Regions from separate parts of the Homo sapiens genome. Here regions 1 and 2 are each linked to region 3. Evidence: fine-mapped expression QTL. A gene starts in region 3. Each other region holds a variant in brackets. All regions are shown on one strand. Distances are from middle to middle. Region 1 overlaps PDHX (pyruvate dehydrogenase complex component X). Region 2 holds the start of LOC105376624 (a long non-coding RNA gene). Region 3 holds the start of APIP (APAF1 interacting protein).

What was found. PIP is the estimated chance that this variant, and not a neighbour inherited with it, causes the effect.
Region 1: its variant is fine-mapped to the expression of APIP in lymphoblastoid cells (GTEx, PIP above 0.99).
Region 2: its variant is fine-mapped to the expression of APIP in lymphoblastoid cells (GEUVADIS, PIP 0.92).

The regions. Positions count from the first base shown.
Region 1 is chr11:34,940,265-34,951,289 of GRCh38, forward strand. It overlaps PDHX (pyruvate dehydrogenase complex component X), which reads left to right. Exons shown (of 11, transcript NM_003477.3): 3 at 7,242-7,342. It overlaps MIR1343 (microRNA 1343), which reads left to right and starts at 1,573; the gene lies at 1,573-1,656. The variant A/G (reference allele first, on the strand shown) is at 5,517.
Region 2 is chr11:34,864,445-34,875,469 of GRCh38, forward strand. The region is part of intron 6 of LOC102723568 (a long non-coding RNA gene); the gene reads left to right. LOC105376624 (a long non-coding RNA gene) reads right to left here and starts at 10,834. Exons shown (of 2, transcript XR_931185.2): 1 at 10,723-10,834. The variant T/C (reference allele first, on the strand shown) is at 5,739.
Region 3 is chr11:34,909,747-34,920,771 of GRCh38, forward strand. It overlaps APIP (APAF1 interacting protein), which reads right to left and starts at 6,633. Exons shown (of 7, transcript NM_015957.4): 1 at 6,482-6,633. The coding sequence starts at 6,538. It overlaps PDHX (pyruvate dehydrogenase complex component X), which reads left to right and starts at 6,872. Exons shown (of 11, transcript NM_003477.3): 1 at 6,872-7,069. The coding sequence starts at 6,910. RefSeq lists silencers at 6,294-6,633, 6,654-6,703 and an enhancer at 6,874-7,173.

The sequences.
Region 1 (11,025 bases), 31 kb after region 3:
GGTATTCCTTATGTCATGAGACAAGGGATTTTTTTGTATTTCAAATAGTTTTTGTCTAATATACTGTTACTGTATAAAATTCAGAAATAAAACCATTTTGAAGAAAGCCTTATCCTATATCACTAGATGCCACTAGAGAGTTATATGGGTCTCTGGATTCTACTATAGAAGACACTTTGGTTCCGTTATTTCTGGCAATATGTATATGTTTGTGGTGCTAAAATGGAAAATTTTGAAAAGTCCATTTCACAAATAGCTTCCTTTTTTTGGTGTACTATGGTTTTCACAGCTTTATTGAGGTATAATTTACATACCATAACATTTACCTATTTTAAGTATTCAATGATTTTTAATAAATATATGGAGTTGTGCAGCCATCACCACAATCCAGTTTTAGAACACATTTCTGTCACCCCAAAAAAGATCCCTGCTGCCTGATTGCAGTCATTTTTTTCCTCCCATCTCTATCCCTAGACAATCCGGATCTGTTTTTTGTCTCTAAAGTTTTGCCTTTTGTCTATGTTTCATATAAATAGAAGCATGTAATGTTTGGTCTTTTGTGACTAGATTTTTTCAGATTTAGCATGATTAAGGTTCATCCATGTTGTAGCATTTATCAGCTGTTCATTCCTTTTGTTACTAAATTATATTCCATCATTATGCGTTTTTACATTTATTGCTAAATCTTTGTATTATATCAGAATTTTTAAATTAGTGAATGGAATTATAGATTATAGTTTTATTCAATAGAAGTTTCTGTGGTGATGGAAATGTTCTGTGTTAAACTGTCGAATACAGTAGCTACTAGACTTTAAGAAGCCAGAGGGATGTGTGGGTGGTTGACCTTGTCTAACTGGGCCCTTCTCAAACTCTCCTACTCATGCCTTCACCCCATAGGGCAGGACCTCAACTGGCCTAGCAACCAGGTTGCCTCAGGTCTTTGGCCATGCAAATATTATCCTTCTTTGTGTGTGTGTGAAGTGAAAAGGGATGACAAACACTGACTAGGGGTCCCTCCTCTACATTCCCATTCTGCTGTAGGTACTAATTGGATGGGATTGTCATTGCCTGCTTGTTGTACTGTTCTTCAATCAGATTAGGAACTTCTTGAAGCAGTTCTGTCTTATTTTATTACTATTTTTATCATAGTGTCGCACACAGTGTCATTCACATGGGCAGCTAGTAAATACTTGTAGAGTCAACAATTGAATTATTTTTGTTTCTGATTATTGTTATCATTATGGTTCAACATAGCACTAAGAAGAGGAATTTTTCTTTAATGTTCATGTTAATCTGATAACTTGGTCTTACAGATAAAAACTAGCTCTCTTCCACCACCACCACCACACACATCTTTTACGTAAAGACTTTTATTCTTAATTTTTGGCAGAACAAAATTATTTTGTGAAAGCCTCAGGACTTATTCTATTAATAAAATAAACATCACCATTAACTGTGTTTGACCAAGGCTATGCTTAATATCTAGAATTTAAAAAGAGAAAGGGAAGCCTCCGTATACTTCAGTCCTCAGCTCTGGCAGCTGCCCATCGGACAAAGGAACAGGACGATGATGCTGGCGTCGGTGCTGGGGAGCGGCCCCCGGGTGGGCCTCTGCTCTGGCCCCTCCTGGGGCCCGCACTCTCGCTCTGGGCCCGCTCCTCTTCCGCCACTGCCATGGACCACGAGAAGATGGTGCAGGAACACTCCAGGGCTGCCATCTCTTTCTTCAATCAGTCAGCTATGAACCTGACAGCTGAGAAGCCATCTGTCATCTCACGCTGTCCAGGACCCTCTATCCTAGCTGCTGAGTCTTTTCCACTCTTCTCCACTTTAAACTCTTTGTGGACAGAACCTTCTCTTTTTGTTGTTTTCATACCCAGTGCTTAGTACAGTGCCTTATACATTAATGTTTGTTGGATGATCTGGTAGAAATGACAGAATATGGAATAAATGTGTCCTGATTCTGGTAGAAATGACAGAATATGGAAAAAAACCGTATCTTGATTCAGGTAGACATGACAGAATATGGAATAAATGTGTCTTGATTCAAAATGGTTGTATAGCTAACATTTTATTTTTACCTAGAGATGTTGTAAAGTGTTACATAAAGATGTATGTGAAGCATTAACACTTCCAGCCCCATGACTTAAAAAATATATATCTATACATTTAAAATTTTCCTGAGAGTCAGAGAGATTAAGTAACTTGGTCAAGATCACTAGTAACTGTCAGAGCTTGGAATCAAACTCATATTTGAATTAGGAGAGGTTCCTTGTAACTACTCTGCCAAGGAGTCTTTCTAAGTTATAGCACTAAATTTTTGATCACAGCTGAAACTCAGTAGATTTGAAATATTCATGGCTCATTATTTGCTCTCAGAGTTTTCTTTTGGCATTTACATGATGTTTGATTATTGAAAGATAGAACTTTGGTTTTGTGATGAGTTAGGGGTAATGCTTCCATACGTAATATTACTATGTTTTTAAAACTTCCCTGTGATTTATTGGTAAAGTGTTCTGTGTTTCTTTTCCCTACCTCCCTCTCTTTTGTCCTCTCCTTTTTTCCTTCTCTCTCCTCCTGCTTTTCTCTTCTACCCTCTCCCTTGGCATTCTCATCTAGCTAACATATATGTCTGTGTTATGTGAATAGATATAGTTTTTTAAAAAAGAAAAAAAGGCTATCTTTTTAAATATCAGAAGCATGCTACAAATCAAATGTTAGAAGCAAAAGAAATGTAAAAGATAATTTGATGTATACCTTATGAGGAAATAAGGATTCGTGAAGTTATCATGTTTTTTTCTAAAGCATTTTAATCTAAAATTCATTGGGTATGGTGCATTGGCCATGAAACCTGAGGAATGGGGATGGGAATATAAAACATTTAAGTGTCCTGTCCGTATTGTGAAGAAGCTCATAGTCTAGTAAATAGAGGAAATCACAATTTAAAAAAGTAATTAGCAGTAATATAACATTTTATATGCAATTTGTGATTTTTAAATAAATTAGACCTACTATAGGAATCTGGAATATGAACAAAATTATGTAGGTCAAGTTACTCAGAGAAAGTTATATAGCTGAAGTCGAATCTGTAGTTCTTAAAGTGTGGTTGGAATTTGAATACTGATGAACACAAATGATGATATAGCATCATTTTGTTTTTCTGTGGCTAGAGTCTGTTTTCTAGGCATCTAAGAGGTATTTAATTGCTGGGTTTACTAGTTCTATAGTTTTTCCCGTGATTATAGCAGAAATCTTTGAGGGTGTGCTTTTTTTCCCTTTTGAAGTGCAATCTGTTTTAACCACTAAAACATTTAAAGAAGTATGTAAGATGATATAATCTGACACTGTAGCTTTCTCTATGACATACAAAGGTCATTTTTGGTCTCTTCCTGCATATCTTACCAGCCTAATCTCTCGTCACTTCTCTCGCATACTATTTGCCAGTTTCTCTGAAGTTTCCTGTTCTCTCTGCCTCCAGGGCTATAAGTGTATTACCTTCTACCTGGATCACTGCCTGTTTACAGATTGTCTCCTCCTCACCTCTTCAGGCTCAGAATAGGTGGTCATTGTATTCTAGGAAGCCTTTTCTCACCTTACAAAAACTGAATTAGATGCCCCTCCTGAACATTCCCAAAGCATCCTGACCTCACCTTATCCTGCTGTATTTTCCAGTTTACTTGTCAATGGATATTAAGCAAGCTTCTTGAGGTCAGGAATCTTAAATCTTTGCTGTTATTACTGTCCACTGCTGTATCCTCAGTGCCTACATATGTATATATATTTTATATGTAATATATAAATATATAATACAAATATGTGTGTGTGTGTGTATATATATATAAAATATATTTATATAATTATTATTATTTTTTAGACAGAGTTTTTGCTCTTGTTGCCCAGGCTGGAGTGAAATGGCATGATCTTGACTCACTGCAACCCCCTTCTCCCAGGTTCAAGTGATTCTTCTGCCTCAACCTCCCGAGTAGCTGGGACCACAGGTGCCTGCCACCTCTCCTGGCTAATTTTTGTATTTTTAGTAGGGACGGGGTTTCACAATGTTGGCCAGGCTGGTCTTGAACCCCTGGCCTCAGGTGATCCACCCACCTCGGCCTCCCAAAGTGATGGGATTACAGGTGTGAGCCTACACGCCTGGCCACCCCAATACATTTTTAATAAATGTTTGTTGACTAGGGACATCTCTTTGGAGTTAGACAAAGGACCTTTTAGGTGGTAAATAAATATCATCTAACATATCAATTTATTTTTAAAAATAACTTATATTAGTGTCTCTGAACTATTTAACCTGAAGATATAACTATCAATTTGATCATCTTGGTACACAATGAAGTACTTTCTGTACTGTGAACGTTCAGAGCATATTTGTTAATTTAGTGTTTTAGATTTTCTTTCATATTCTCTTATGATGCTTGCCTGTTAATATTGCTATTCCAGCTATTTTTGGTGTGTGAGGAGGTGTATTTATATGTTACATATTTTTTATCCCCTTGTTTTTTATTCTGTTTTTGTGTTAGGGCTATCTCTTGTAAGCTACATTTACCTAGATTTTATTTTCATATCCATTTTGATAATCTCTACTTTTAATGGGTGATTTTAATCCATTTATATTTATTGTGATTACGGATACATGGGGACTTATTTCTACCATTTTTTGTGCATTTTTGTTTTTATCCTTTGCCTTTTCTTTCCATGTGCCTGCCCTCAGTTAGATAATCAACTTCTTATTTTTCCTCTGTTTTTCTAATGCTGTAGATTATATTTCTGTTTTTAAATTTTAAATTAAATTTTGCCAATAAAGTTTAGTATTATTCAGTATTTTTCTCCTATTATAAGTTGATGCAAAAGTAATTGGGGTTTTTGAAAGTAAGGTGGTAAAAATAAAATTACTTTTGCACCAGCTGAATATATCAAAGTTGTTAGCATGCCTTACCATCTAAACATTTCCTTACCTATCTTATTATTTTTTAGAGTTTGAGTTTTACACTTTTTAAACCCTCAAACATTACTTTAAAAATACTAGTAGTTAACATTTTAGTAATTTTCACAATAACTTGTTTCTTATAGCCCATGGGTTCCATCTGCTTCCACTTTTCTTCTTGATGAACTGCATCTTGTAAGAGCTTTTTAAAGAGATCTTTAATAGGTGGTAAAATTTCCTAGCCTTTATATATCTAAAGAATACTTCTCTTTCATTCTCAAATGATGGTTTGGCAGCATACAAAATTCTAGACAGTTATTTTTCCTCAGTTTTTTGAAGATATTACTTCATTGTTTTCTGACCTCTGTTGCAGCTGCTGAGAAGTGTACTCTCAGTCTTTCCATTGAGGTAATCTGTTTTTTTTCCCCTTTGATAGATTTTTAAAAGATTATGTTTTTATCGTTGATAGAATGCGGTTTCTTTACATTGTATCTAATATGGATTCATGTTTATATAGTCTAATACTCTTTTTTCTGTTTAAGTTTTTATCAAGGTATAACTTGCATAAACTTTAGGCTCA[A/G]TTAAATTTTGTATACATGTATACCCATGTTACCACCACCTAGATCAAGATTTAGAACATTCTTAGCAAGCTACACAGATCCGTATGCCCCCTGCTAGTCAGTACACCTATCCTAAATTCATTCAAAACTCTTTGATGATGAGAGTATACATCTCCAGTTCTGGGAAATTCTCAGCCACTAATTCTTCAGGTATTGCTTCTCCACCAGTGCCTCCAGTGTCTTCCCTCAGAACTCCATTAGCAAACATTGCAGCCTCAGTCTTTGTCACTTAACTGCTCTTTTCTGTTTTTTCGTTTTGTTTTGTTTTTTGTTTTTAATGTTTGTATCTTTTTGTCTGCCTGTATGAAATTCTGCGTAGTTCATTAGTGCTACCTTTCAATTTACTAATTCATACCTTCACTATTCCCTGTCTAGAATATATTCTGTTGTTTCTTTTTATTTCAATTACTTAATTTTTCATTTTTAAGATTTCTAATTCGTTTTTTTATTTCTACCTGATACCATTTTTTTTTAATTTCTTGTTCTTGTGATGGCTCTTTTACTTTCATTTATGTTTTTGGATGTCCTCAAGTACTTATTTTACAATCTTTGACAGATTGCACTAAATAAATTGCTTCTGAAAAGAATTTTTGTTACAATTACTGATTTTGTGGCTTGCTTTCTTAGCTTTTGATTTCTTCGTGTGTCTCAGAACTTTCTTGTGCAATTTACTTTTAAGTGGAAAGTTTATGTTTTAATGTCTTCCCTCCTACGCAGTCCCCCCTCGATCCTTGCCACCATCCAAGGAATTTTGCAATTGATATTGGGGATATTGGCAGATACAGCCCCGGAGCCAGAGGGTGGCTTGACTTTGTTCCTGGTACTGAGGCAGTATTCTGGTCCCCACCTTCCTAGACCCATGGTTGCTGATTAAAATCATAGTCTCAGTCAACAGGTTTTGATTGTGCATTTTATCAGCCTCACATTATGAGTAGAAGAACCCTGACTTAGCCCTAGCTCCAAATAGTGAATCTGATTTGAGTCCCCTATATCCAACAGACTACTTTTAGTTCCCTTTAATCCCCAAAGGAAACTGTTGTACCTCTTTTCCCCTGTTTGCTCCAAACCTGCTCCTAAATCCAGAAGCTAGTAAGCCTGGAACTTCAGGTCTTCCTCCATATTTTTGAGTTTCCAGATATTTTCTGTTGCAGAGAAATGATCTGTATTTGACTTCAGTTGTGTCTTTGATTTTCTCTTTTTATGCTTTATATGCTTTATTCATTTATACTGTGTGCTGCCAACAGGTTTTTTGAACTTGCCCTAAGATGTGAACCCAGAAGTACTGTTAATTGTAAAACTTTTCTTCAGGGAATATAGTCAAAATGTTTGAAAAAGTAAGGGGGATATGGAGTCTGGAATTGATTTGTTCAGAGGTGGATACACATTTGTTGCTGATGTCTTTAAGGTTGATTTCATTTTTACATGCTCAGTAATCTTTGTAATAGCTTTTTTATTATCACAAGTATAATTTATGTCCATTATAGAGCTTTTGGAAATTACAGCAAAGCATACACATACACACACACACACAAACACCCACACATAATGAGAATTACTTGTATTTCCACAACCCAGAAATAGCTACGGAATATTTTGGTATTTATTTATGTTTTATTCATACGTACATATATACATAGTAATATTTATATTTTAAAAAACAAAACAAACCCAGTCTTGTTTTGTAGGTGAAGCGGTGAGTGCTGGAGATGCATTATGTGAAATTGAGACTGACAAAGCTGTGGTTACCTTAGATGCAAGTGATGATGGAATCTTGGCCAAAATCGTGGTAAGTTTTTATTTTAATTTTCTTCAACAGGATGAAGATTTCTTGAGTGGAAAGTTCATTGTAGTAAAATTACCTTTTATTTTTGCCTCCTTATTTTTAATGTGTATTGTCTACTACATAATACATTTTTAGTTCAAGTGTTTAAAATGTTTTAGAGTTAAGGTCTAATAGCCTATTTTTCTGTATTTTCTAAATTTTCTGTAATGTGCGTTATTTTTATAATGGAATATTAGAGCTTATGTGAAAAGTAAGTGAAATAAAATGCGTAGAGCTACATATGGTAGAAACATGACTATTTAGCATTGTGTGGTATATTCCCTGATTGAGCCAACCAGCGTGTTTGTTTCTTAACTTCCAGAACCTTTACTAGGTAGTATGGTGGAGCATCTAAGACTGTGGACTCTGGAATCACCCCGCTGACTGATTCATGTTATATCTAAAAAGTTCTGCCAGTTATTAGTTACGTAATGATAAGCAAATTCTTCATCCCCTGTGCCTTTTTCTTCATGTTAAAGTAGAGATGATAATAATACCTACTTCATAGGACAGTAGGGAAGATTGAGAGAGTACATATATGCTCATCTCAAGACCTGTTACCCAATTGCTCAATAAATGTTACTTTTCCCATTATTAGAACTGTTTCCTCAGCTCTTGGTGACCATTAGTCCCCAAGTCAGTCTGTATGTTTGCCTAATAATTTGTATTGGTTGGTTGCAACTGGATAATAAGTATCCATTTGTGCCTCTGGAGTTCAATTTGTACAGATGAGCTGCATGTCTATTAGCAGTCCCTTGTGGATGTGTTTTTATTTCTGAGCCACCAGCTTACCTCTGCTTTGAGCATAGATGTAACACCTTCCTTTGTATATTCTATTCAAAGACTACACTTCAGAATGCTATACTCTAACTAGGTGCAAATCTAGAGACAATTTTTTATTTGTTTTTCTTTCTAGAAAATCCTCTTTTCCTTTTTTTTTTTTTTTTAGCCACTTATGTTGTATTTTTAACTTCGAATATGTCAAACTCCTTTACTTGTCATCTCTCATATTAGATACTAGATATAACATTCCAGGTTGAAACATGTTGATAATACAGTTAACTTCCTTGTAGGAATATGAATCAAAGCCTAAAATTTCTGTACATTTGTAACTAGGAAAATATAAATATTCATACCAAAAATAGTTTTCTTGACTAATTTATGCAGCATATTGAAACAGATTGCTTGAATTACCATGTAATAAACCCAGCTACATTTTATTATGTGTGCTTTTGGCAAACTGTGTTCTTGGCCCCAATTCTGGATTGTTTGGCTGTGGAAATCTTCCAGAATTGATAGCATTTTTCCACTTAGCTGCTTAGTAATACATTTCAAATTGCTAACCATGTCAGTGGGTCAGCAGTGCCAATTCATCTGGCCCCTATGCTCTGAAAAAGGTTGGGAGTGGGAGTGCATATAGTTGATAGTGGCTTTGGTGGCACAGCTATTTTCTTGCCAAAGAAAAGACTGTATATTTTAGGCCTTTGTGGCTTTATTATTATTCCACATGCTTTTTGGATAATATTTGGGAGTCTCTTCACAACAAGATGTTGCAATTTTATCAGGGACAAACTAGTAAATCTTTTTTTCTTCTGTTTTTTGTTTTTGTTTTTGTTTTTGTTTGAGATGGAGTTTTGCTCTTGTTGCCCAGGCTGGACACGATCTTGGCTCATCACAACCTCCGCCTCCTGGGTTGAAATGATTTTCCTGCCTCAGCCTCCCAAGTAGCTGAGATTACAGGCATGTGCCACCACACTCAGCTAATTTTGTATTTTTAGTAGAGACGGGTTTCTCCAATTTGGTCAGGCTGGTTTTGAACTCCTGACTCAAGTAATCTGCCCACCTTGGCCTCCCAAAGTGCTAGGATTATAGGCGTGAACCACCATGCCCTGTCAAAACTAGTAAATTTTGATACAAAAATACTTCAGTTATTATACATTTAAAGATCAGTTCATCAGCTTATTCTTAAAGTTAGTATTTAGCAAATTGAACAGCAGCTGTTTTAAATGATAAATTAATAAAGTAGAATCTTAGGATGACATATTTGGAGGGTTTATTAGAGGTTCTCTAATTTGGCTTCCAGTGTATTTGGGGTTGCTATATAATTTGGCACACCAATTAGGATATTTGTGAGGATGAAAAGGGTATAAGATGTCAAAATTATTTACATTTATGTAATGTTTGCAATGTATTTATTGACTAGCAATATATTTATTGATAGATTTTTATTGATAGACCATTATTCAAAACAATTTTCAAAAGTAGAATTTTTTCTAAAAAATAGCATCCATGGATATTAAAACAAATTTTTTTTAAAAAAATGGTTTTTTAATTGATCATCTGAATACTAAAAATAGCAGAATAATTATTCTCGGTACTATTCACCTTCTTCAGTTGGTTTCTTCACTTTATCTCACTCAAATACTGTCATTGGTATTTTTCTAAAGAATACATTTTTAAATATTACTGTATTCGTTAGATACCCCTTCCCCACCCTTATTTTTTCATTAAGTTGCCCACAATCCCATTCAAAGTTGCCTTTTAATGGTTTGAAAGTTTATGGTTGAAATTTGAAGTTGTAGAGGCTTCAAATGATTCTTCTGTCTAGACCGTGATATTTTTAATTGAGAAAATAGCCTCTCAGAGCTCAGAGCAGTTCTATTAAATGGAAGATATTCTCAACTCTAATTTTTTCTTTTTTTAATGTTTGTTTATTTATTTATTTATTTTATTATTATTATTATTATTATACTTTAAGTTTTATGGTACATGTGCACAATGTGCAGGTTAGTTACATATGTATACATGTGCCATGCTGGTGTGCTGCACCCATTAACTCGTCATTTAGCATTAGGTATATCTCCTAATGCTATCCCTCCCCCTTCCCCCCACCCCACAACAGTCCCCAGAGTGTGATGTTCCCTTTCCTGTGTCCATGTGTTCTCATTGTTCAATTCCCATCTACGAGTGAGAACATTCGGTGTTTGGTTTTTTGTCCTTGTGATAGTTTACTGAGAATGATGATTTCCAGTTTCATCCATGTCCCTACAAAGGACATGAACTCATCATTTTTTATGGCTGCATAGTATTCCATGGTGTATATGTGCCACATTTTCTTAATCCAGTCTATCATTGTTGGACATTTGGGTTGGTTCCAAGTCTTTGCTATTGTGAATAGTGCCGCAGTAAACATACATGTGCATGTGTCTTTATAGCAGCATGATTTATAGTCCTTTGGGTATATACCCAGTAATGGGATGGCTGGGTCAAATGGTATTTCTAGTTCTAGATCCCTGAGGAATCGCCACACTGACTTCCACAATGGTTGAACTAGTTTACAGTCCCACCAGCAGTGTAAAAGTATTCCTATTTCTCCACATCCTCTCCAGCACCTTTTGTTTCCTGACTTTTTTTTTTTTTTTTTTTTTTTTTGAGACGCAGTCTTGCTCTTTGGCCCAGGTGGGAGTGCAGTGGCGCAATCTCGGCTCACTGCAAGCTCCGCCTCCCGGGTTCACGCCATTCTCCTGCCTCAGCCTCCCGAGTAGCTGGGACTACAGGCGCCCGCCATCACGCCCGGCTAATTTTTCTGTATTTTTTTAGTAGAGACGGGGTTTCACCGTGTTAGCCAGGATGGTCTCGATCTCCTG
Region 2 (11,025 bases), 45 kb before region 3:
ACTGCACTTTTTCCCGTCAGTCTTATTCTTGCTTTTTAGCAGCAGATGATATTTTACATTCTCTCTTCTTTTTGAAACTCTCACAAGTTAAACTAAATGTTATGCTCCTCCAGTTTTCCACATACTTCCTCTTTCTCCATTTCCTTTGTTAGTTCCTCTTCTCTCTCTTGCATTCCAGAATGTGCCCTAAAGCTTAGTGTTTCTTCACACCTTTGGAAAGATGACCTGTACCCAGGGCTTCAATTTACACTTCCACATCCCACCAGACTCTGAATTTCAGGACAATGGAGACCCGATCTATCTTATTCACTGGCAAATTCTTAGCATCTTGCAGAGTGCCTGATACATAGTAGATGTTTAATAGATGGTCAAATGAATGGATGCATGAACTACAGATCTGCTGATAATTCTCAGATACTCTCCTGAAGTCCAGATACATATTCCTAGGTAACTACTAGATCTTTCCTCCTTAGTATCTTGCTATTGCTGTGAAATGGTAGTAAAAATTTGGTGAAGCCATTGAGGGTTTCAGCAATTTACTGGGGCTACCACACCAGCTGGACTCTCTCATGTTTCCCCAATGGAGGTGGCTTTATTACCAAGCTGGGATATAGACCTTCTACAGAGGAAAATGGCAGCCTGACTCCTTCCAATGATATGGGTTTGAGCTTCTTTGAGAGGGTCCCAGTGCAGCCTCTGGTTGGAGTCCTTGCTAAGTAGACATGGATAAAAGATGGTTGGATCTGAAGCAACTAGTAGCTCATCTGGGGGTGACAATACCACCACATTCATTTGGGTCAATGCATGCTAGTGTTAGCTGCCCAGGGAAGAGTTAATTCCAGGTGAAGTGTAGGCATGGAAGAAGAATGAGCACATAGTTGTGAAGAGTCACAATCCTAGCAGGGCCTCCAGATCTGTCTCCTGGCTGCCTCCTCCTGCTTTGAGTGCTCAGATATTTCCATGAAACTTGGCTGTAAATGCCAAAGTTGGTGGTTGTCCGTAATTACCAGGGGTGTGGTTCACTGAGCATTTGCTTAGTCTGAAATAATCAAATGACTTCTTGTGGGAAGAATGAACAGAGAGAGCCTTAGAGGCTGGATGACCTCTACCTGCTGAGTCACCCTGCCCACCTAATTGCTTCATACTATTTCTGTACTATGTGCTTCCTGGTGGGCATTAACATGTGATCAAAGATCTTCGTACTTCACGCTTGCTATAATATCTATTCTCACACTTTCTACCCTAAGACAATTTGATTCCAATTTCCCAATCTTTCTTCTTCTAGGCCCCTGATCAGCCAGCCAGGCCATTTGCCACTGCCAATGAATCTATAACTTTGGGCCATTTCTTTCGTCCATACAAAGTGGGTGACCAGATTCATCTCTTGAACTCTTTCCATTGGAAGAATTTTTCCCTGACCACTATCTTTCAAGGCCACCCCTGAGGGGATGTGTAGAGCAGCTGCTGACCATTTTTGGCTTGCACTACATACTGCTTGCATTACCTCCTGAGCTCCACCTCCTGTCAGATCAGCAGCGGCATTAGGTTCTCATAGGAGTGTGAACCCTATTGTGAACTGTGCATGCAAGGGATCTAGGTTGCATGTTCCTTATGAGAATCTAATGCCTGATGATGTGTCACTGTCTCCCATCACCCCCAGATGGGACCATCTAGTTGCATCTAGTAGCTCAGGGCTCCTGCCAATTCTACATTATGGTGAGTCGTACCATTATTTTATTATATATTGCAATGGAATAATAATGGAAATAAAGTGCACAATAAATGTAATACACTTGCATCATCCTGAAACCATCCCCCTCACCCCATCTGTGGGAAAATTGGCTTCCATGAAACTGGCCCATGGTGCCAAAAAGATTGGGGACCACTGGGTTTGACAAAACCCAGTTCATGATGATGCGTGTTCTGGATGCAGGGTCACTTGGTGCATTAGTTAGGGTTCTCCAGAGAAACAGACCCATAGATGGACACACACACACACACAGACAGAGTGGGGAAATAGAGAGATTTATTGTAAGGAATTGGCTCATGTGACTGTGTGAGCAGGCACCACCAGAATTTACAGAGCAGGCCGGCAGGCTCTCAGAAACACACGGAAAAGCTGATGTTGCAATCTTGTGCAATCTTAAATCCAAAGACAGTGTGAATGCAGAATTTCTTCCTCCTCAGGGGACCTCCAACTTTTCCCTTAAGGTCTTCAACTGATTGGATGAGGCCCACCCATATTATGGGGGTAATCTGCTTTACTCAAAGTCTACTGATTTAAGTGTCCATCATATCTAAAAAATAGCTTCAAAGCAACATCTAGACTGATGTTTGCCCAAATATCTGGACATTGTCGCCGGGCCAAGTTGGCATATAAAATTAACCATCACCCTTGGTATCTCAGAGGCAAGTTCCATATTTATTACGGCCCAGTAGCACACTAGAGTTTTTCAAAAGGCAAATAATTCTTCCTTGCAGATGGCATGGCTTTGTTCCAGAAATCTGGGATCTGCATAACGATTGTCCCACTGGGACTCACCATAAACTAACATGACATATTTTCCCACCACCGGTACTCAAACATCATACGGTCTTCTGGGTCACTGGCTCAAATGTTCAGGAGTTACTGTAGAACCCTTTTCTGCTCTGGGTTCCCTCAATGATGGTAATTTTCAAGACACCCAGCACATGGACCGGAGCCGCATTCCCAAGTGTGAAATGTGCTGACTTCAGAACCTAAAGAGGTCTACAAGGAATTGTGCTTCCTTTTTCCTAATGGGGAGCGCAAGATGTAATATCTGTCTTTCACTTTGGGTGGGATATGCTAGCATGCCCATCATCATTGGATCTTTAAAATTTTCGCTGATGTTGAGCTTCTGAATCTTCCTAGGGCTTACCTCCCACCTCTGGAGCAGATGCTAGCTGGTTCTTGATCATTCAGCCATTTAGCGCCATGTCATCAATGTAGTGGATCAATATGAGGTCCAGCGAGATACTCAGAAAGCCCAAATTTCCTCAGACTATATTACAAGAGTGAGAACTAACACAGCCCTGGAGAAAACTATAGCTCTGTTGCCTATTTCACATGAAACTAAACTGTTTCTGGTCTTTTCTTTTTTAAGAGACAGGATCTAGCTCTATAGCCCAGGCTGGAGTTCAGTGGTACAATCATAGCTCACTGTGGCTTCTAACTCCTGGGCTCACGTGATACTCCTGCCTCAGCCTCCTGAGCAGTGGGGACTGTAAGTGTGAGCCACTACACCTGGCTTCTGATCTTTTTTTCTGATAGAAATGGCTGGCTCCATGCTGTGTACCCAAAGCCATGTTCACCTGCTCTAGCACAGGTGCCACATCTGGCACAGCAGCTACAGCTGTGTTTGTGTAGTCTACTCTCATGCTCCAGGAGATCCATCTAATTTCTGGAGGGGTCCAGACTGGTGAATTAAGTGGAGATAAAATGAGGATCTCTACTCTGGCCTCCTTTAGATGCTTAAGGGTAGCATTAATTTCTGTCATCCCTCCCAGGATATGAATTTGTTTTGTATTTAGTAGCTTGGCTGGGGGCAAGGTGGGAGTAGATGGAAATTTCAAAGGCTGCTACTTGGCCTTCTCTGCTATGATAGGCTGCTTTTACCTGACAGGCCAAGGATTCAATGTGGGAGCTGCACCATCTATCAACTATGTCTATTCCAATTATATATTTGGAAATGATCAGTAGGTAGGCCCACTGTGAGCTAGACCTCAGTCAATAGTCCACTTGTAAACTGGTCTCATATGATTATCTTGTAATAGGGAGGATCAAGATGACATTTCAGGTCTCCAGCTATCAATATCACCTCATATTCTACGTCCAACAGTAATCACATGCTTGGGTATTCCCTCTGCCCCCAATGTAGAGTTATACATAGGCCCCTTGGGGAGAGGACTGAATCAATATCTCTTGCGTTGCCATGGTGTTGCAAAGTCATTTTATCTGGAGACTATCCTCTCTTTTCATCAGTGGGTTCTGGGTCCCTATAACAATTGAGGTCACAAAACTGGATAAGAGATTGTGTTTTTATTGGGGTGACTGCACTCAGCCTCCTGATCATCTAGTCTTGATTTCTTCTCAAGGTACAAGTTGAGTGCCAGGCCTCTGAATATTTGTAAGGTTTATTTTGGGGTGCCTTTGTTGACTGTCTCTCTGTTTTGGTCCTGTGGATGCTGGGGTTGTTTTTTTTTTTTTTTTGAGACAGAATCTCACTCTGTCACCCAGGCTGGAGTGTAGTGGCACTATCTTTGCTCACTGCAACCACTGCCTCCTAGGTTCAAGCAATTCTTCTGCCTCAGCCTCCTGAGTAGCTGGAACTACAGGCATGCACCACCATGCTTGGCTAATTTTTGTATTTTTAGTAGAGACAGGGGTTTTACCATGTTTGCCAGGCTGGTCTCGAACTCCTGACCTCTCCCAAAGTGCTGGGATTACAGGCATGAGCCACCGTGCCCAACCTGAAGCTGTGTTGTTTTAATCATCTATATAATTCTGCAGATGAGGCCCCCTTGGCTGTGATTTTGATCTTACCACTCATTATGAAATAATTGTATCACCTGGTTTTTGATGGTGAAAAGCTGCTGACAGGTGTCTATTGATTTCTATTGTTTTGGGGTCTTATCACCATTCGTACCTGTAAGCTGAATGATGTAATGATCTCTCCTACTTTCACCTGGGATACTTAGTAATGCTGGGATCCCTTTCACCAATGCTTTCTGTAGCCTTGATAAATAGCATGTCCAGGCCTTCCCATGAACTGTAATAATCTAGTGTGCTATCTGGCCTTACACTGTACATCCACTCCAGCCTGCCCACTTCCCTACATCTTTTAATCTATTCTTCCACCATGTGCTATGGAAATTCTTATATCTTAGTTTCACTCAGCATGGGTCCTTGCTTTTGCCACACTTCTAGGAGCCATCTATGTAGCAGGTTGGGCCCACCTGCTGGGATCCTAGCCTAAGTGTTAAATCTTGTATTTTAGAAAAATAAATAAACTCTTTCATAACCAGCCTTATGTCCCAGCTTTCTTGATTGAGCACTCTTGGGGTTCATTTCCATGGACCTCCCGTGGTGCCTGCTGGTACCTGCTAGTTAGGCATTGCAGCTTCTTTGGGGACTCTTTCCTTTCTTGTCAGACCTAGCGCAACCCTGGCTGGGTTATTCTGTGACTTAACCCTCGTTATGCACCTAGTGGCCAGAAGGGAAAGTGAAAACAGATGCTGGGGACATTACATGTTGCCCTGAGCTGGAGAGGCAAGGAAGGGGTGCTAGCTCTTAACAGGGAGGGAATTCACTTTTGCAGGTTTGGGAAGTGCAAGAATCTGAGCATTAAAGATTTTCAGAGCCATCAATGCTGGTTTCCCCATCCCTTGTGTCAGAGTCCTATTTTTTCCCAAAAAGGGCCTTGGCCTTGTCATGGTAGACCTGCCTTAGTTGGGAGTATAACATTCTGAATCTCAGGTATTCTGATGATTAAAACCTGAGCCTGTTCTTCAGCTTTCTCTGCTTTCCTACTGCAGAAGAATCTCTTGGCTATCAAGGAAGCCCTCTTGCTTCCACTCTTCACTTTTAATTGCCCATTAATCACTCTCAGCCTTTCATTATCTTTAACAAAGCAACAATCACAGTAATCATCCACTCCCACTGTCATTGTTGTGACTATTTCCTCCATAATTTTCAAATGCCTGATATATGGTGTGTA[T/C]TGGTGTTTTCTCTTCCTTAGTGTGCTATCCCACTTCACCACTGGTGAAAGTTTCAATAATTGGACCATCACCTTATGCCAGGGGCTATCTACCCCACCCACCTCTAGATGGGGTCCTCAGTGTCAACTTGGTGGTAAGATATTCAGCTCCAAAGCTATCTTATCACCTACTTTCTTAGACCACTCTTGCTACTGACTGTCACAGGCTGAGGTTCCCCAGGAAGCAGCCTCTGAGAGAAAGTTTAGTATGCAGGATGTCACTATTAGGTGATGTCCTTGGTATCAACGCAGGTGGATAGGATGACTCCTTTGTCCCAGTTTTCCTGAAACAGCCTTAGTTTTAGCGCTGAAAATACAGCATCCTGGAAACCCCCTCAGTCCTAGGAAAACCGGGGCTGTTGGTGGCCCTGCCTGTGAAAGGGAGGAAGCAGAAGCAGGATCGAATTGAGGAGCAGTCAAGCTGCGATACAGGCCTGAGAGCCTCAGCTGCCCCAGGGAGAGCTCTGGAACTAAATTTGGCACATCAGACATGTCCAGCATCAGGCTGAAATGGCTGAGTCCTCATATTCCTGCTCCCTCAGTCACTGGATATGGGCTTCCCTGGGAAGGGCATGGCCTTGGGTAAGCAAATCTGCAGCTGAGATCTCTGAATGGGGCTGACGGCACTCCTAAGAGTTGAAGCAATAAGTCCTCCCATGAAAAGGGATCTGGGTGGTGAATCCTTGTGTCCAAGGCAGATATGTGTAGATATATTTTTATATTTGCATAGACCATCTGTGAAGGGATGTGCAAGAAATTGATACTGTGGTTGCCTCCAAAGAGAGGAAGTGGGTGACCAGAACAGGGTGGGAGGAAAAATTACTGTAAGGATATATTTTAGATTTTGAATATGTACAGTTTGAATTTTTAAAATCGTGTTAAATATACATGTTTATTACACACATGAATTTAGGCTGAAAAATCAATAAAAAAAGTGGAAATAAGAGTTTTCACAGATCTAAATAATTTCTCTACCATATCTCTTGTTAACCAAAGGAGTAAAAATATTTAAATTCTCCTACCAAATTTATGCTCTTATTTTTAAATCTAACCCCAAATAGCCAACCTGTTAGCATCGATACAGGAGCTAGAAAGAAATTAGGCAGATAATGAGGGCACAAGACTCCTCAGCAAGATTCCCCTTTTAACAAAAAGGAGCCCCCAAATAATTTCTAACAAAAATAAGCCTGAAAAATTGAACTGCAGACATTGATAAGCAAGCTGGAAACTTGCACAGTGAATGCCAGCAGTTCTGCCAATAGAAAAGGGCTACCCAGGCCCAGGCATGTTCAGCATGGAGGCTCCATCTTCCCTTTTCTTTGTGGCCACATGTGCAGTAAAGGAACAGGCAACATGGCGCCGGCCAGGTAGAGAATCTATCTGCATAATAAAATATTAGTGTGGAGGTGGGGGGCAGCCAGATTTTCATGTGCTATGCAAATGGCACACCTGGTCTGACCAATCTTTCATGCCCCATGTAAATCAAACACCGCCTACTCAATATAGGTCATCTATAAAACCTCCTGCACTTCACCACAGAAGTGACAACCCACTTCTCTTTCTTTCACCTACTAAACTTCCGCTCTGAACCTCACTCTTTGTGTGTCCATGTCCTAGTTTTCCATGACCATGAGACAATGAATCTCGGATATTTACCCCAGACAATGACACTGTTCAGCATGAGATAAATAGTAATAGTAATAAACTGGTTTGTTAAGGAATTGCCACTTTATTTGGCACAAAATCTGAATAGTTTATCTACCAACACATGGCTTTAATTTTGTTTTAGCTTTAATCTCACCCTTCAACTTTAATATCTGTATTTCTATTTCTTCCTTTCTTTCCCTTTTCTCCCACATCTTATTATGTAAATTTTAATATTATCTTATCCTATGTTGTGAAATATATATTTTATCTTTGTCTCAGGTTTCCTGGTATACAACTCCTAAAAATCCTTGGACTCTTCAAAGTGATGTGTCTTTTTGTATGATAATGATTGACGGCTGGCAGTCTCCAGGTAGCTTCAGGATGGGGGCTGGTCACCAGAAAGACCAAGGCAGGATTAGAGGGTTGAAACTTTCAGCCTCACTTCCTAACCTCCAGGGAGGGAAAAAGGGGCTGAAGGTTGAGTTGATTACCAGTGGCCAACAATTTAATCAATCACGCCTACATAATAAAGCACCCATAAAAGCCCAAAAGGACAGAGTTTGGATAAACTTCCAGATACCTGAACAAGTATAGGCTTCTAGAGGATGGCATGCCTGGAGAGGATATGAAAGCTCTGCACGTGATTCCCCTGTGCCTTGCCCTATGCATGTCTTCATCTGTGCTCTTTGTAATATCCTTTATAGTAAACGGGTAAACATGTTTCCCTGAGTTCTGTGAGCCACTGCAGCAGGCTAATTAAACCCAAGGAGGGAATGGTGGATATCCCAATTTATCAGCAGGTCAGTCAGAAGCATAGGTCACAATCTGGGGCTTGCAATAGGCATTGGAAGTGGAGGGCAGCCTTCTGGGACTCAACCTTCAACCTGTGGAATCTGATGCTGTTTCCAGTTAGATATTGTTGAAATTGGATCGGAGGACACCCAGCAGATGGTGTCTGCTGCAGAATTGGTTGCTGGTGGGGAAAAATCCCCGACATCCATCTTGGTAACCAGAGGTCACAGAAGTTTTCTGTGTTGTTGAGTGAGAGAATGAAAACACAGTTTGATTTTCCTCTCTGTATCTTCAGAGATTCTCAATCCTTTTCAGAACGAGTATGGGTGTATATAAATGTAATATAAATGCTTTAACACAGGGGTTCCCAACCTCCAGGCCGTGGACCTGTACTGGTCTGTGGCCTGTTAGGAACCGGGCCACACAGCAGGAGGTGAGCAGCAGGCAAGCGAGCATTACCCGCTGAGCTCCGCCTCATGCCAGATCACTGGTGGCATTAGATTCTCATAGGAGTGGGAACCCTATTGTGAACTGCACATGTGAGGGATCTAGGTTGTGCACTCATTATGGGAATCTAATGCTTGATGATCTGAGGTGGAACGGTTTCATACTGAAACCACTCCCCCTGCCCCCATCTGTGGAAAAATTGTCTTCTACAAAACTGGTCCTGGTGACGAGAAGGTTGGGGACTGCTGCTCTAACGCCATATAAGTGTTCCTGAAAAATCTATGCTGTACCAAAAATAATAAGGCAAATGGAGTAGACAAGGTTCAGGAAGACACTAAAAACTTATGAACTATGTAACCAGAATACCAATAAAAATATTACTAATAAAAATGTTACCACAGTTAGCTTTCTTCTAGTTTTCATGGCTGTTAATCATTTGCTTCCTTATAATTTCCTAGACTTGTGCTTCCTCCTTTAAGATGTAAGTATTAGAAGGCATTTGCTTTTAAAAAATTCAATTTTCATCAAATTTTAAAATCGTATCCAGTCTGTAGGCTTCCTAATCCATTGTTTTATATAACTAGAAATATCTTCTTAGTGTCTTTATCCATGCCTGTTCCAGATAGCTTAACTGAATGAAAATTACTGAAGGTCCCTAAAGCTACTAAATGAGGCTTTTTTTCCCAATAAAGAATAAACTTCTGCAGATTTTCAGCTTTTTTTCCAAAATGTTTTCATATATCTTTAAAGCTTTCTCATTAATTATAAGAAATCTTGCCCTAATTGCTTTAAAACAATGTGCTGAGAAAAATTGTGTATGAATCCATGCAATTTCCATATTATACCAATGTACCAATATCATTCCTTTATTTACCAATTTTGTATGAAGTAATATACATAAAAGACTTGAGTCTCATCAAGATTAATGCGAGTTAGCCTTTTATTTCATGCAATTGCATAGCATTTGGTTTGATATACTATTAGACATTGTGTAAGACTCTATTATGAAATAAATCATCTCAAAATAACTTTTAAAAAAGCAAATCTGTTCATCTCTTCTGACTCAAAAGGCTGAAGGTGAATCCAAAGGTACTGCTAAATCCAAGTACTAAAATGCTGTAGTAGAAATATTTCTATATCTTGGCTCTGCTTTTTATACTTTTCTTTGTGTGTTGGTTTCATTCTCTTCAAACACAGACAGGCTTTCTTTATCTGGCAGTGGAGTTGGGTCCTGGCACCTCTCCTTGAGTTAGGAACCTAAGACTTTGAACCCCTCTGTAGGCAGGGAAATGGTGTGCTATGACTGGCCACGACTGGCCAGGTCCGGGTCACGTGGTTATGGCTGCAGCAAGAGGGCAGGCAGAATACTGTGACTGACATCATCCCAGAGCCTCAAGGGATGTGGGTGAGTGGAGGTGGCTCCTATGAGTGAGGGAAACTGGGTAGACACCAACAGCAGCTTACCTCTACCTACGTACCAACACTTGAGCACTGAACAAGTACTGAGTACGAAAGAAGATTTGCTGAAATTTGGAGTTACAAGACCCTTAGAAAATGCCAATCAGAAAATGAAAGTTAAGTGATTCTGCTCAAGGTCAATGTAAAATTATTAAAAATGCTAATGATATGGGCAGGAGGCGAGGAAATACTAGGTAGAAGAGGGCAGTTCCCTGGCAAAGGCCCCACCCTCAAGCCTGGAAACCCATGGACCTAAATGGGAACAGGCATCCCTGTTTTCACGCCCAAATGTTGCCTTTTCTAAGACCACTCTGGCCTGCCATGCCCCTATTCTGTGCCCACATAAACCCCAAGCTCCACGAGCAGAGGAACAGAAGAGTAGCAGAACGACAGAGCAGCAGAGTGGCATGGCATAGAAGAAGAGAAGAGAAGGAGCGTCTGAACATCAACAGGAGTTCAGCTGGGGACAGTCAGAGAGGAGATCGGCTGTGGGGCAGCCAAACTCTGGGGGAATATCACCTTCCCATTCCATCCTCTTTCCAGCTCCCCATCCATCCCACTGAGAGCTACTTCTATCACCCAATAAAATCCCTGCACTCACCATCCTTCAAGTCTGAGTGACCTGAATCTTCCTGGACGCTGGATGATATGGTTTGGCTCTGTGTCCCCACTCAAATCTCATCTTGTAGCTCCCATAATTCCGTGTTGTGGGAGGGACCTGGTGGGAGATAATTGAATCATGGGGGCGGGTCTTTCCTCTGCTGTTCTCATGATAGTAAGTCTCACAACATCAGATGGCTTTAAAAATGGGAGTTTGCCTGCACAAGTTCTCTCCTCTTGCCTGCTGCCATGTGAGATACGCTTTTCACCTTCTGCCATGATTGTGAAGCCTGCCCAGCTACGT
Region 3 (11,025 bases):
GAAAGGAAATGATTCCTAATAGGAGACACGGGGAGAAGGAGAGAAATAATTATAGAAGGTGAGAGGGCTTGGAGATCCTGAGCTCTAGTGGAGGAACTGGGCTTCTTGCCTTTCATGAAATGAGAGAAGCTGGGTTCACATTCCAGCAGATTGGTAGGTTTTGTGGTAGGAAGGTGAGGAAGTTCATTACCTAATGACTTCTATTGTCTTCAGTATAAACAAAGTCATCAGCTGAGTATGGCAACAGGGTATGAGAGGCTTGACAAGAGAATAAAAGGTATAAAACAGTCATCTTTGGGAGTGGAACACCGAACTACTAGAGAAACAAAGATGGGCTGTTGGGCAGCAGTAAGTGACGATTTGAGGTTGAAATCATGAAGCAAGGCCAGACAACAAAGTTGTGCAATATTCTCCAGCAATGTTCAGCTGCTCAATGCCAGCCCAAAGAAATGGGTGGCAGGGTTCATCCTGGCTAAAGGTTTGGCTAGGCCAACTCCATATGTAAATTAGGTCAACCACGACCTTAAGTAACAACTGTTTCAATAGACTGGGTGTGGAAGCAAGATCGCAGTGAGCTTCACTCACTTTCATTTAGAAGTAAATGAAACTTGGAGGCATGGAGTTCTAATGACTCTTTCAATAGTGTTGCTATAAAGAAGGGCTAGACAGGGAAAAAGAAGGGAAAAACTGGTTAATTAAGACAGTTTTCTGTTACATGCTAACGGGTAACATGAGGAGACAGGGAAAGATTAAACATACAGGAAAGCAGAGGTCTAAGAGGTCAGCCTTTGTCGAGATAGAGAAGCTGGCATTAGAAAAACAGGAATGGGAGGAAAGGTAAAGATGCAGGTAAGTATGTAATAATATTAACAATGTAATATTAAATATGTAATAATACCACTGATAATAAGAATTGCTAACATTTCTTTATAGAGTGCTTATTTTGTGCCAGGCATTTTTCTAAAGCCTTTATATGGAATACTTTACTTTATCCTTATAACAACCCTATTGTACTAAGAGAGATTAAGTAACTTGTCCAAGGCCACCAAGATAGCAAGAGGCAGAGCCAGAATTTGAACCCAGGCAGTCTGATTCTAGATCCTGGTCCTTAACCTTTACATTATACTGCATGTGGAAAGAGGAAGACATTAAGAAGTTCACACCTAATAGCTTTCAGTTTCTTTGTGATTTTGGAGGCAAGGTCACCTTTGAAACAGGTGTGGGGTAAAGGATGAGGTGAAATGATGAGGTTCTGGAACAGCTACTTAGGGGAATGTAAAAGGAAACTCCCCAGAGGACTGTCACATGCTACTCAGAGGCCAGCTGCAGTAAGACACCAGAATACTTGTAGACACACTAATTCATATAGTTGAATATACCCAAAAAAGTGTATGGTAAAAGGGTAGGGGTTGGGCAGAGAAGGATATGACCATGGGAATGGGATGTTAGAGTGAGGGGGCGGTAAAGATGAACAGCAGTGATGAGGTCAAGGAAAAAAAAAGGGCAAGGTACTGGATGTACTTGTGCTGCAGAAATATCAAAGAAAAAATATTTGTTCAGTGTCAACATATATAGGACACTGTGATAGTTAAGGTAAAATTAAAAAAATAGAAGTAGTCCCTACCTGGTTTTTCTCTGCAACTAAGCAGAGAATGGGCTCTTGGTATAGCTATACCTACCACAGTGCTTTGCTCAATAAACGTTGGTTGCATTAACATCATATCTCTTACATTAAAAAAAGTCCTGTATCAGAGGTTATGGTATTTTGTGGACTGCTTCAGGCTCACAGGAAGTTGTTTATTTGGTCTACGCAATGCTTAGAAAGAGTCTGAGCCTAAATTTTAAAATCAAGAGATTTCATATAAAATCTGAGTTTCCAGTTTCCCTTAAAAAAGCAAAACTAAACAATGGGCCCATAATACTCCCACATAGCAAAAACGATCAGTGTTGTGTAGTGCTACCTCTTAAAACAGGGCATATGCTGGCCCTAGTATCTTCTTTTTGGTTTCCATCTGGCCAATCTAAAATGCCATATTCTCCATGAAGTCTTCCATGAGTCACTGTATGAAATGACCTTCCCCTCCCTCTATACTTGCAAAATACTTTGTCATCCCCTAATGGAACTTCATCCTTTCCCCCCATGCCCCACTGCCCATTACTGGTATATATTAATTATAAATATGCATTTGCAACTGCCCAAGTTTCTGAAAAATAGGAACAACTTACTCATGTTTGCATTTTTCAGCCTGGACTTCAATATACGGTTTCTGAGTAAATGCTTTCTTTTTTAGGGAAACACTCCTTGACTTTTGCTGATGTTAGAAAAAATCAGTTCAAGGGCCAGTCAGTAGGGATTTAATTTCAGAGCTGTAAAACCAGGTCAGAGATTATTGTCATAAGCTGAGTCTGACCCGAAAATAATACACTTGATGCCTGAAGAATCTTTAGAATACAAGAAGAAAGTACATGAAACATAAGTCACTTGGGGATGTTACTGCAAATGATAATAAAAATTATTGAATGGGCTACAGAGTGTTCAGAAAAGATATATAATATCTTTTATAATATGTGTTCAGAAAAGAGTGTCTATCAAAGACAGAATAATATAAATACACAGGTCTTGAGAGCGAAGGTTTTGGTGAGCAAGTCTTCCAAATCTTTATCTCCAATCCAGTTCTCTCTCCTAGCTTGAAAGCAATACCCAGTGTGATGGTTAATACTGAGTGTCAACTTGACTGGATTGAAGGATACAAAGTATTGATCCTAGGTGTGTCTGTGAGGGTGCTGCCAAAGGAGGATTAACATTTTGAGTCAGTGGGCTGGGAAAGGCAGGCCCACCCTTAATCTGGATGAGCACAATCTAATCAGCTGCCAGCATGGCTAGAATACAAGCAGGCAGAAAAATGTGAAAAGGGAGACTGGCCTAGCCTACATCTTTCTCCCGTGCTGGATGCTTCCCGACTTGAACACTGGACTCCAAGTTCTTCAGTTTTGGAACTCAGACTGGCTCTCCTCGCTCCTCAGCCTGCAAACGGCCTATTGCGGGATCTTGGGTTCACGTGAGTTAATGCTTAATAAACTTCCCTTTATATATATATTCCATTAGTTCTGTCCCTCTAGAGAACCCTGCTAAATACACTCAGTGTATAGTACCACATGCTGAGGCTGTACCTCAAACTCAACATGTCCACAACACACCCATCATAAACTGTTTCTTCCTCCTGTATTCTCTTTCTGGTGGACCACCAGGCCCCAATCACTAGATCAGAAGCCTAAAAGTCATTCTTGACTTCTTTTCTCACTACACACATCTAATCAATAACCAAGACCTCCTGATTTTACTCCCTCACTCAGACCTACAGCATCTCTTGCTTGGATGCCTGCCACGGCTTCCTAGTCTGTCTCCATGCCTCTGGTCTTTTTAACTCTAGCCAGCAATCCCCAGGCCTTCTTCAGTCATCCTGCTGATTATCTCATTGCCCTTAGTTTAAAAATCTAAGATTTGCTTAACAGGCCCTTTAGGTCTGGTCCTAGTTTGTCCAGAATTGGTTCCTTCCCGTGGGTTCTTGGTCTCACTGACTTCAAGAATGAAGCCGCGGACCCTTGCGGTGAGTGTTACAGTTCTTAAAGATGGTGTGTACGGAGTTTGTTCGTTCAGATGTTCAGAGTTTCTTCCTTCTGGTGGGTTCGTGGTCTTGCTGACTTCAGGAGTGAAGCTGCAGACTTTCACAGTGAGTGTTACAGCTCTTAAAGGTGGCACGCAGGTTGTTCGTTCCTCCCGGTGGGTTCATGGTCTCGCTGACTTCAGGAATGAAGCCGCAGACCTTCGCAGGGAGTGTTACAGCTCATAAAGGTAGTGCGGACCCATAGAGTGAGCAGCAGCAAGATTTATTGTGAAGAGCGAAAAAACAAAGCTTCCACAGCCTGGAAGGTGACCGAGGGGGGTTGCCGCTGCTGGCTCTGGTGGCCAGCTTTTATTCCCTTATTTGGCCCCACCCACATCCTGCTGATTGGTCCATTTTACAAAGAGCTGATTGGTGGGTTTACAAACCTTTAGCTAGACACAGAGCGCCGATTGGTGCATTTACAATCCTTTAGCTAGACAGAAAAGTTCTCCAAGTCCCCATCCGACCCAGAAGCCCAGCGGCTTTACCTCTCACTAGCTTTTCTCTTTAGCTTCATCTCAAGTCTCTGGCCCCTACTTTATGTTCCAGAACACCAAACTTAATATGGGAACACACCATGTCTGTAATCAAGGACAACCCTGAGATTGTGTACATGCTACTTCCCCTACTTGGAATATCCTTACTTTCATTGCATGTGGTTATGTCTTCCTGATCCTTTAGGCCTCAGTAGATACTTTCACTGTTTCCTGAGGTATTCTCTAACCCATTCAAGTGTATACTCCTAAACTACCTTGAACTTTCCCATCTAAGTCATATCGTCATATGTCAAACTATGTCATGTTGTCATACCATCTTTGTCTCTTTGCTAATTTGTCTCTTCCACTGTACAGCATGTTCTAGGGGAGAAGGAACCAGATGCAGCTTGCACTTATAAATCCACAATGCCTGGCACATAGTAGGCGCTCACTAAATATTCGTTGAATTAATCACTTACAGTTGAACATTCCCCTTCCTTAAGGCCAAAGAGACTGTCTCTTTCCATTGCCCATGACCCCCTAAAACTACAATGAAATTTTATGACTTCTTAAAACTTTTCTTATTGCTGTTTTTATGTATTTGTACAAAACCAGACAAATACAAATATCTAGAGGGGCTCATGTATTTAACTAGATATGCAAATCCAGTGTGAGTAGTGGAAGCTGTGGTAACCTGGCCAGCACCCTCTGTAAAGGTGGTGTTCACTAGTAACCGCAATCCAGATCCCATGAAAAAATAAGGGCCCAATGTCACCATGTGTTCTGAGGTTTTAAAAGAAGCTGAAATGATTCTGGATTTTGAAATGTTGGCTTGGCAGGGCGTGGTGGCTTACACCTGTAATCCCAGCACTTTGGGCAGCTTAGGGGGGTGGATCACCTGAGATAACGAGTTCGAGACCAGCCTGGCCAACATGGTGAAACCCAGTCTCTACTAAAAATACAAAAATTAACTGGGTGTGGTGACATGCGCCTGTAATCCCAGCTACTTGGGAGGCTGAGGCAGGAAAATCGCTTGAACCAAGGAGGCAGAAGTTGCAGTGAGCTGAGATCACGCCACTGCACTCCAGCCTGGGCAACAAGAGCAAAACGTGTCAAAAAAAAAAAAAAAAAAAAAAAAAGGTTGGCTCAAATTTTTCATGAACATTGAGTGCAGCAAAAAAAAAACATGCCTGTCCACCAAGCTGTCTGTGGGCCATGTTTGGTTTGAGAATCCTAGTTTATTCTCGGGTCCCTTAAGGCTCTCTTTGATGCTCATTCTGATGACATTACACTAAGATTTACTGATTGAGGGTACGGACACTTCTCCATACACACTTGCCCAGGAACGATCTCCAGTTACCTGTCCTGTCTCCAAGATCTTCTCTCTCTCATCCAATCTTGCCTATGCAGCATTCTATTTTCAGAGTCGTCTTTGCTAATTTGGGGAAGTCACTTATTCAAACAAGAAAGTGGTTGACAAATGTTTAGCAATGAAATCTCCCGCGAGTTACTACTTTTTAATTAGGATTTTCAACCCTAAGAAAGATATAGATAGGAGGAATAAGATAGGGGGAATAAGGAAACTAATTTTGAGGGGTTTCCCTGCCTCTTAGGTGGGGTTTATCATATTGTGCTGAAACTGCTTATTCGTCTAGTTCTCCAGACCCTGGGCCATTTATCTTACGTATCCCTATCTCTGAGCGTGTAGAAGGCGCTCCATAAAACTGTTGGTTTGTGTAAATGACCGAAAACTACATGCAGCGTGAGGGTGGATTTCCCTTTGACTTCGGCTTAAGGAAGAATCGTTCCCATGATCATCCCACAATTCATCTAAACGGAGATAGGCAAGGAGCAACTGCTCAAAGGCAAAGCGCTGGCAGCTGAGGCACAGCTCCGGTTCGGCAAACGTCTCCCGAGTGCCAAACGTCCCCCCAAACGCCTAACTGGTCGTCAGGGCGCAGAAAAGAAGCTTGGGGGGCGCGGTCTTCGCCCCAGCTCCACTTCGGTGCTTCACGATTCCTTCTCTGGCCTGCCTTCCTGATAAATACCCGGTGAGGTCACCTAAACGCTCTCCTCTCTCAGTTATTTGCTTCTTTCCAACGTTTGGCGCCCAGCTCCCGCCATCGGAGCGCCCCGCCCGAGACCACTGATCTCCTGGGGCCTCGCAGCCTTGCTTCCGAACGCCAAGGTCGCGGTGCGCCGGGGTAGCGAACGGCCAGGCCCGAAACCCCGCCCCGCAGCTAAACGCCCGGCCCGCTACCCTGCGCCCAGCTCCAGCCGCCGGGTCCCGCCTGGGCCTCTCCTCCTGGGAATACCGGGCACCGGTGGCCCCGCCCCTACCTGCGCGCCGCATCTCCGGGAACAACAGTCTCCCTCCCGAGCATCACAGCCAGACATGGCCCAGACCAGGGACCCGCGCGGCCTCCAATCTCCGCACGGCTTTGCGCGCGGCGCTTAGCCTGGGATACGGCAGCGAGGCCGCAAATGCAATCAGGCGGCGCTGAGGGCAGCCCGGGGGCGGGGCGAACGGGGCGGGGGCCGGGGTCTGGTAAGGCCCCGCCGGCTGAGATATCCAGCGGCGCACCTGACTTCCCGGGAGGCAAGGCCAACGTGGTTGGAGGCGGGGCTGGGTTGGGGGGCGGGGGTTCAAGTCTGAGAGACCTAAAGGCACCGCTAGCGTCTGGGGGCGTGGCCAACCATGCGGGAGGCGGGGCCTTGATGCTGGACATCAGGCTGTGCTGCGGGCAGCCAGTGAGAAGGCCGTCAAGATGGCGGCCTCCTGGAGGCTGGGCTGTGATCCGCGGCTGCTGCGTTATCTTGTGGGCTTCCCCGGCCGCCGAAGCGTAGGGCTGGTGAAGGGGGCTCTTGGGTGGTCTGTAAGCCGCGGAGCTAATTGGAGATGGTTTCACAGCACGCAGTGGCTTCGGGGTGAGTGGCCGGGGCTCGCTCAGCTTCTCTGTGTAGCTGAGTGATGGGCCTGGGACAGGGGCAGTTATGATTGAGGGCCTGCTTTTGGGTGTGAAGGTGCGCGGGCTCCTTATTCCCTTTCCTCTTTCTCCGGTTGGGGTCCGCCGACTTGGCCTAATGCATGCTGTGAAGGGCTTTCTTGGCAGCTGAGAGAACTCGACTCTGCCCTAGGCCCCCTGGTTTGTATGGCTTTGTGACCTTGCCTTGGAATTTGGGTTATTTGTGAGGCGCAGAGAGGGTTCCCAAACTCTCCTCCCTCAGCCCCCTTTCCAATCAAGGCTCAGGTTTCTTTAGGGTTGTCAAACGTCTCGGACGAGAAAAAGCTGCCCAAGGTTGCCGAGATTGAAAAGCCACTGTTGGGAGTTCTTACTTATTCTCTAGGCCTCTCTCTGTTAGGAGGTGTTTTCATTGAGGCCAGTCGAGTTTTACCCCACGCCATGACTCGTGGAAGACTTAAATTTGTAAATTCCTACGGCATCACGATAGACAAAGGTCCAGGAGAATGTTTCAAGCAAATATTCGCTTGAAAGAGCAAACATTTAGGAGATAAATCATACCAAAAATTTATTATAGAAAATTGTTGTTTAGTAATGATATTGATGCAGTTAACACAATTCTTGCAGTATTTAACAGTATGCAAAATGGCAGGCCGGGTATTATTTTTCCTTATTTTGGGAGAAGGTTGGAGGGAGGCGGGGATGGAGAATAGGACTGACGTTTTTTAGTGTGACGTATTACCTGCCAATCATCGTTCCTGGCACTCTACAGAATGAATTTTAATTTAAATAGGTCTAGTAGACGTTGCCTTCATATTCTGAGCTACCTTAGGCTCAGAAAAAAAAAATCACACAAAGTCATATGGTAAGATGAGTGTATTGGGGTTCCTAAAGGTTCCTTAATGGGAACAATTTATTTCATTTTTGGTGTAATGTTTCATAACATATTCCTTGGAGCAGAGGTGCTTTAACAGTGTGTGCAGAATTCCTTCTCTTCCCTCCTCCAAGTTTGTTGAAATTAAACTTTTTTCCAGCTCCTAGAGATTCGGTCTGGTCTGGTGTGGGGCTCAGGAATCTGCATTTTACAAATGTTGGATGAGTTTTGATGTTTTATTTTGACATTTAATGGAATGAGCTTTGAGACTCACTGCCTTAGAAAATCATGGAATATTAAAAGTTTAGTATTGGATATAATCTAGGAAGAGTGCTCTTAATCTTGTTTATCAAGCAGATCCTTTTGAGAATCTTTGAAAATGTTACAGACTCTCTGTACAGAGGAAGTACCATAAATGGTCACACACAAAAATGTGCACGTAGTGGCTCACGCCTGTAATCCCAGCACTTTGGGAGGCGAAGCTGGAAGATTGCTAGAGCCCAGGAGTTGGAGACCAGCCCGGGCAACAAAGTGAGACCCCCGTCTCTACTTAAAAAAAAAAAAAGAAAGAAAAAAAGCCAGGCGTGCTGGCATCCCAGCTACTCCAGGGGCTGAGGCAGGAGGATCCGTTGAACCCAGGAGTTAGACGTTTCATTGAGCTATGATCCTGCCGCTGCACTTTAGCCTGGGTGACAGAGTGAGACCCTGTCTCAGGAGAAAAAAAAAAAAAAGTATACATAGGCCCAGTTTAATGCCTTTAGAAACTCAGTTAGGCAAGCAATCCTTATCTGCATCCTCATGATGCTTTTTTACCTATTCCCTATCCCCTAGACATATACCATGAACAACTTGTCTACCCCAGTTTGAATACCATCTGTCAGGAAGAAGGCATGGCATCTCAAGGAAAGCCAAATTAGTTTTCTAGTGCTGCTGCAACAAATTACCAGAAATTAGTGGCTTAAAACAACACAAATTCACATCTCATAGTTCTAGAGGTCCGAAGTCCAAAATGGATCTAACTAGGCTAAAATCAAGCTATTGGTAGGAGCTGCATTCTTTTCTGGAGGCTCGAGACCCCATTCCCTTAAGTTTTCCAGATTCTAGAGGTTTCTAAGATTCTTTGACTCATGGGCTTCAAAGTCAGCAATGGCTGGTTCAGTCTTTATCACATTACGTCACTCTTAATACTCCCCTCTGCCTTCTGCCACTTACAAGGACCCTTGTGATTACATTGGGCTCATCTGGATGATCCTGAATATTTTCCCCATCTCAAGGTTGAGTAGAAACCTTAATTCCATCTTTAACCTTAATTCCCTCTTGCCATGTAACAGCATATTCATAGGTTCTGGGTATTAGGACGTGAACCTTTTGAGGCATGGCATTCTGCATGTGAAGCTGTGGAAAGTATTTGGAAATACTAAGTATTTGGAAGTGTTGGACTTTTTTCCTAATACCGAGCCAAAATATATCCGCTTCTGACTTTCACCTACATACAGATTTTTGTTTTGCCATGCCGAAAACACGTGGCAATCCTTGAACTATTTGTTTTACAAACTGTGAATTTACGGTGGTGTTTTTTCTCTGAGCTTGGTAGAAACTGTAGTTTTATAAAACTAAACAACTATTTGGATTACTGTAAACTATATAAATTAAGTACATTTATTGAACTGTTTCGTCTTTCACACAAATATCTTTAAAAATTTGTCAGTCGGAACTACCTTTGGAGTTTTAATTTCCTTAAGAGGTGCTGGCAGCATTTTTATGAGCTATGACATATGCCATTTTCTTAGCACTTTCTAGAATTTCTCATTCACTTCTCACATAACCTAGTAAAGTTGGCATCATCTGCATTTAGTTGGACAAAAACACCAAGGCTTAGAGAAATTGAGTCTCCTAAAGACATGTAACTGTGTTGATGAACTGAAGTGCATGTATATATTTATATACATATATTAATTTGTTTAACAAATCTTTAATTTGTATCATTCTCTCAACAGATTTATTGAGAATGCAGAGACTATCTTTTTTACCACTTACATTATTGAAGAATGAGTGAAGAAATTAGCATCTATTAGGTGCCAGGCACATGGTACCCTGCTTGGGAAGTAGTGGCCAGCTGAATCAAACAGATTCTCAGTATTTGCCACATGGCACATTTAATCATACTTAGCTCCTGGACATGCAATCCAAAATTCTATATAGGGCTGATCCTTAAGGTATTTGTAGTCTCTTTGGGGACATAAACAATAAAGGTATGATTTCAATAGTGTATACAGTAAGCTCAGAGGGGGTAAGTTTGAAATGATCAGGAAATAATATATAAGGCAGCTTCTTAGAGGAAGAGGTGACAGCCCTTACAGGCTGAAGGAACAGCAGAAACAAAGACCCAGAGACCAGAGTGATCATTATATAATTGACACAGCATCTGTAAACAGTTTTTCAACCTACTCTAGACAGTTAACTTCAGAGAGTTTAAATTGTGGTCCTTTCAGAGTAGGTAGCATGATTTGGAATATAATTGGTAAGATGTTAATTAATAGTATTGGTTTTAAGTTGTCTCTGAAGAATAACATGTTGAATTTAAAATAACCTGTGAATAGAAAAGTAACTGAGGTTCAATCTTGGTGGCGATTTGCCTAGTATATAATTATAGGCAATACATATTATAGATGTTCAATAAACATATCTAAGGAAGCTAGTAATCTAGGAAGTTATAAAAGAACACTAGAGCCTACAGTAGGATTCCAAGTTGGCAGCCAGGGAACTGACCCACATTGTTTTAGCAGAAAAACTTATGGCAAAATTTTAAAATCAGGAGACTTTACAGAGAAATCTAGATTTTTGTTCTCTCTTTAAAATTGATAGTTAAATCCTATGTGGTGACAATTATCTAACACTGAGTAATGATTGTTCTTTTTAGGTAGGAAATTGCTTCCTACTTTGTCACTATGCCGCCTACTCTGTATTACATCTTAGCAAGGCTGAATGTCCCTTGGTATTTGCATCACCTCTAGTTGTCATTTTTTTTTCTTGTACTCTTATCTCTA